Regions from separate parts of the Homo sapiens genome. Here region 2 is linked to region 1. Evidence: fine-mapped expression QTL. A gene starts in region 1. The other region holds a variant in brackets. All regions are shown on one strand. Distances are between the middles of the regions.

Region 1 (2,906 bases):
ATGGTACATTTTATAAATCAACTGTTTTAGCGAATTGTATTACAAAATTAGATAGTCTGAAAGTCTGTGGAAATATCACAAACAGAATACAAATCCAAAACCCACATAAACTGTTCATAAGTGAGCATTTTTTCAACAATCAACTTTTTGTAAATTGATCCCTTCATCTAATTCACCTCTGCCAACTAGGCCTTTACGCCCAGAAGTAGTTGATTTGCAATATATCTTCTATAAGCTGAAATACCATCTTGCAAGGGTCGAGAATAAAATAAAAAGGCCAGAAAAGATCAACGTACCCTTTTTAATAATAAAAAGTAAAGTACCAGGTAAAAGGCCTTTCCTTCCAAGAGAGATAGGCCATAACTATCCCGGGATGGTATGTGTAGTACAGTGCTCTGCTTAACAGAATGTACCATTAAAGCGGTGAATGCTACACTAAGAAACATCATTAACAAATTTATTTTAAAAATAGGTATGAAGGTTCCAATCATCACTATCACAGTTCGTTTTCAGCTATTTAAGGTCTGGCTGAAGTGTTTAAGACACCCACAAACCCGCAAGGGAGGGAAAAACCACCACCCTGCTCCCGGGAGTTTAATGAAAATTAGCAGGTAAGAGAGGCCTCGGCAGCACGCTGGAAATCAAAGAGGGCGGCCGGAGGATTTGGACTGCGGAGGAAAGCCTCGTCCTCCGACCCCACCTCCCCGCACCTTCCCGGCAGGGCGAAGGAGGCGAAGGCGGCGAGGGGTTCATTACTGCCTTCATTAATTGACACCTGTAATGAGGAAACTTTCCGAGAGCCCAGAGCGCCCGGGCCAGGCCGAGCCGGAGCTCCGCGGCGGCCGCCTCTCGGGCGCCCAGGTAACCCGGCCGGGCTGGGCCCGAGGCGCCGCGGCGGCCGCGCCACCGCGCACCTTCCCGGGGCGCTAGGCCCGCACGCCGCCCGGCCCGGCCGTCGCCTCCCGCAGGCCGCGGCAGCCCGGGGAGGCCAGAGAGCTGCGCGAGGACCCCAAACCGTGCACCCCGACAGGCCGCTACCGCGGCTACTTACTTTCATTTAACACCTCCACCAGGTCTGCGCAGTTCTCGCACATCGTTCGGCCGCCGCCCCCCCCCTCCCCCGCTTCGGATCACACTGACTGATCCCGACCGGCGGGGGGGAGGGGAGAGAGGCGGAGGAGGGGGCCGGCCGGCCGGCGGGGCGGGGAGGCGACTAGGGCGGGCGGCGGCGGGGACGGGGCGGGGAGCAAGAGAATGGGGGAGGGGGCCGGCGGTCCCCGCAGCGGGAGGGGGAGAGGAGGGGAGCGAGGGGAGGTGCGCAGGCCGGAGGGGCGCCGAGGCGCCGGCGGCGGGGAAGGGGGGGAAGGACGGGGGGAGGGGAGAGGGGGGGAGGGGGCGGGTGGGGAGAGAAGCAGCAGAGTCACTTCACCGACCAGACGCCGCGGCCACCGCCGACGCCGCCGCCATTTTAACAGAGCGCTCGGGCTGCGCTCGGCTCTTTCCGCCCGGGCTTAGGAGCGGACGAGAGGCGCCTCGCGCTCTCATTCCTCCGCCTCCCTCCCTTTCTCGCCTCTCCTCCGCCCCCCACCTCTCCCTCCGCACACACGCCGCACGCTCCACACCCCGCCGTGGCCGGCTCGCCGCCCTCCCTTTCCTCTTCCGTCCGGCCTCCCCGCCCTCGGTCCACCCCCTCCGCGCGCTCGCCCACCCCGCCCAGCCCGGATCTCTGTCAGCGGCCGGAAGGGAAACGCGAAGCCAGCGCGGCCGCGGGGGGAGTCCGGGTGAGTAGGAGAAGATGGCGGAGGCAACGGACGGGTCGCGGTTGCGTGGCGTCGCCCACCACGACCCACTCCACGGGCTCTGAGGCCCGGGGAGCGCCAGGTCACTCGCTCCGTCCTGTCCCCCGCCCCTGGGCTTCGCCATTTTTCCCCAGGGCCTGGGTCGGGGAGTTGGTGCGGGTTTCTTTGGTGTCCCCGGCCTCTTCCGCGCTTAGGCTTTTGGGGTACGGGAAGCAAGGAGTCAACTTGGGTGCCGGGCCGGGTCTACGCCGTAGCCCTCTTTCGGGCGCAAGGGCCACTCCCCCCGGGGTCTGAGAGTGAATCAGCCCAGGGCCCGGCTTAACTGCATCGGTGATTATCGCTACCCTGCAGTTCCTTGAAGGTCCTCCGTCCTGGAGCAGTAAGATCCTTGACGTAACTAGAAATGGCAGGGTAAGGAGTGTTTGCCTGACATCGTCTCGTTTTTACGGAAGAGGGCCCCTCACGATGTGCCCATCAGCCCCACCTGAAATAGCAAGAAATCTTCTTCAGCAGAGAGCGAATAACAAGGATATTAAGATAAAGAACAGGTGAAGGGGGCAGTCAGCTGAAGCTTGTAAGGGAATTTTCCTCACGCCGGCACTTACCCCTTGCTTGCTAATTTTTGTGTTCAACGTGTTTACATAGACATGTGACTGCAAAGTCCGAAAGATCGTGTACAGAATCTCTGAACGGTAACCAGAGTGTCTGTCAAGGCTCTGTAGTCATTCTCTCGATAGCTTTTGTGGAGGTTATGGCACGCCCATCTCTCCATGCCAGAACCACCTGGTTCCAAATGCTTTGCCTTTCTGCTGCTTGAAGTTGATACTATAAACAGTCTGCCCAACCCGTTTTGTTTCCCACTAGCAGGTGATCCTTAGGATTGTAGTTCTATTCTACCATCATCTTCCCTTCTTCCTTGTCTTTCTCACAGAATTGGGTTTTTGCAGACTTACTTTGGATCCTGAGGCAGACATTCGTTGTCCACTCAACATACATTCCCACGTATCCCTTTTTTCCCTGCCAACACAACCCCAATTATTTTTATTTGAATTTTTTTTTTTTGAGACAAAGTCTCACTCTGTCGCCAAGGTTAGAGTGCAGTGGTGC
Region 2 (2,906 bases), 230 kb before region 1:
TTATTGTGCTTCACTTTACTGCACTTTGCAGATGCTGTATTTTTAAACAAATTGAAGGGCTGTGGCAGCCCTGCAATCAAGCAAGTCTATTGGCACCATTTTTCTAATAGCATGTGCTCACTTTCTGTCTCTGTCACACTGTGGTAATTCCTGAAATATTTCAAACATTTTCATCATTATTATATATTATTATATATTATATTATTATGGTGATCTATAACCAGTATGATTTTTGATGTTACTGTTGTGATTGTTTCAGGGTACCACGAACTACACCCATATAAGACGGCAAACTTAATACATGTTGTGTGTGTTCTGACTGCACCGAGTAGCTGTTCACTTTCTCCCTCTCCTCAGGCCTCCATATTCTCTGAGACAATACTGGAATTAGGCCAATTAACAACCCTACAATGGCCTCTCTGTATCCAGTAAAAGGAGGAGTCACACATCTTTCACCTTAAATCAAAAGCTAGAAATGATTAAGCTTCCTCACTTTAAATGAGGGCCCTGTCACACACACACACACACACACACACACACACACACACACACACACACACACAGAAGTTTGAGAACCACTGATGTAAATAAACAAAATACATCATCATTGTAAAGGTTTTATTTAAAATTTCATTTTACTTCACAAGTGGGCTAATTGTCATTAAACACTGTTGGGTACTTATATAAAGCAAGGTCTAGATTTGTCTAATATCTTTAGGGCAAAAGGCTGTGCACAAAAATGATTCAAATTAATTGTGGTTATGATGATGATTGAGATAAATTTTTATACAAATAGGTAAGTTTAGTAGCTTCAAATCTAATGAAGCCATTTATAATGAATACCATCTAATTCAGCTGCTAAATCCAATTCATGGAATTGAAAAAAGACAACATTCCTGGCTTTTTACCATTAACACATGTGCAGGCAAGATACTAGTTAAAAGCATTTGAGAACAATCCTGTAATCCCAGCACTTTGGGAGGCCGAGATGGGCGGATCAGGAGGTCAAGAGATTGAGACCATCCTGGCTAACACAGTGAAACCCCTCTCTACTAAAAATACAAAAAAGACATTAGCTGGGTGTGGTGGCGGGTGCCTGTAGTCCCAGCTACTAGGGAGGCTGAGGCAGGAGAATGGCATGAACCCAGAAGGTGGAGCTTGCAGTGAGCTGAGATCCCGTCACTGCACTCCAGCCTGGGCGACAGAGCGAGACTCCTTCTCAAAAAAAAAAAAAAAAAAGACTTGATCCCAATATTACAAAAAAAAAATTTTTTTTTTATCCAGATAGTAAAAGCTGAATTGCCTAGACAAATGCATACAATTTAATCAGGTGTGCATTTCTGGAGAAGATTTGCTTTTTTGTGTTTTTGGCTGACTGAATTCCTAACACCAAACCAAAACACATTCAGTTATGTACTCAATAATGTACTATTACTACTTACAACATTCTGAAAT[G/GAAGA]AAGCCTCATAACTACAAATGAACACATTTGTATTCCTTAATATGTAAAATACATTTTTTTTTGAGACAGTATCTCACTCTGTTGCCCAGGATGGAGTGCAGTGGTGCGATCTCGGCTCCGCCTCCCAGGTTCACGCCATTCTCCTGCCTCAGCCTCCCGAGTAGCTGGGACTACAGGCGCCCGCCAACATGCCCAGCTAATTCTTTGTATTTTTAGTAGAGATGGGGTTTTACCATGTTAGGCAGGATGGTCTCAATCTCCGGACCTCGTGATCCGCCCGCCTCGGCCTCCCAAAGTGCTGGGATTACAGGCATGAGCCACCGCGCCCAGCCCATTTTTTTTTTTTGAGACAGAGTTTTGCTCTGTTGCCCAGGCTGAAATACAGTGGTGTGATCTCGGTTCACTATAACCTCCGCCTCTCAGGTTCAAGGGCTTCTCTCGCCTAGGCCTCCTGAGTAGCTGGGATTACAGGTGCCCACCAATACACCCAGCTAATCTTTGTATTTTTAGTACAGCTGCAGTTTTGCCATGTTGGCCAGGTTGGTCTCAAACTCCTGGCCTCACGTGATCCACCTGTCTGAGCTTCCCAAAGTGCTGGGATTATAGGCATGAGCCACTGCGCCTGGGTGTAAAATACATTTTAATGGCATTTCAATTACAATGCATGCTTGAGGGCATGGGTCTGTATCATGAGACACAACAGAAGGAACACTTACAAACCCATCATCCAATCTAAGAAGCAAAACATTACTAACCTCACAAATTGTTAAGTCACTCTGATTCCCTCAACCTTTCTGCCACCTTTTTAAATTTTTTTGAGATGGAGTCTTGCTCTGTCACCCAGGCTGGAGTGCAGTGGTGTGATCTCCATTCACTGCAACCTCCGCCTCCCAGGTTCAAGCAATTCTCTGCCTCAGCCTCCCAAGCAGCTGGGATTACAGGCGCCCACCACCACGCTCGGCTACTTTTTGTATTTTTTAGGAGAAACAGAGTTTCACCATTTGGCCATGCTGGTCTTGAACCCCTGACCTCGTGATCTACCCACCTCGGCCTCCCAAAGTGCTGAGATTACAGGCATGAATCACCACACCCAGTCGCCTACTCTCTTTTAGTGATATTTTCTACTCCATTTAATCTCATTCATTTTCATTTACGGGTCTTATATCAGTATTACCAAGACTATTTGTAAATACTCTTAAGATCTACTCAGAATTGCAGATATCAACCTGTAGAACCTGTTCTTACACTACAGTATTCCTTGCATAAACACTTAACATATTTTTAAAATGTTGCTCAAATGAAATTAACTTATACCTCTAGTAACTCTGACGAAACATCAAATTTGTATTCTCTGCCATTTTCTTCCTCTGGTTCCATGCGTTTGTAAAACAGCATATATGCACTGTGTGTCTTTAAGAGGCAAGAAAAAAATTTATTTTCATTTTGACAA

Which allele goes with the higher level. Positions count from the first base shown, and alleles are read on the strand shown. Sizes are in standard deviations (SD) of each study's normalised expression.
For the expression in lung of the gene that starts at base 1,489 in region 1, G is the low allele of the variant in region 2 and GAAGA is the other (small effect, 0.18 SD a copy in GTEx).

The links. PIP is the estimated chance that this variant, and not a neighbour inherited with it, causes the effect.
Region 2: its variant is the best candidate, but not a certain one, in a credible set for the expression of USP34 in lung (GTEx, PIP 0.74).

What each region holds. Positions count from the first base shown.
Region 1 is chr2:61,469,599-61,472,504 of GRCh38, forward strand. USP34 (ubiquitin specific peptidase 34) reads right to left here and starts at 1,489. Exons shown (of 80, transcript NM_014709.4): 1 at 1,052-1,489. The coding sequence starts at 1,094. It overlaps USP34-DT (USP34 divergent transcript), which reads left to right and starts at 1,498. Exons shown (of 3, transcript NR_185882.1): 1 at 1,498-1,781. RefSeq lists silencers at 811-1,230, 1,321-1,400, 1,431-1,740.
Region 2 is chr2:61,238,790-61,241,695 of GRCh38, forward strand. USP34 (ubiquitin specific peptidase 34) reads right to left here. Exons shown (of 80, transcript NM_014709.4): 53 at 2,771-2,866. Among named protein-coding and RNA genes, the nearest start is that of C2orf74-AS1, 62 kb to the left of the region's middle. The variant G/GAAGA (reference allele first, on the strand shown) is at 1,456.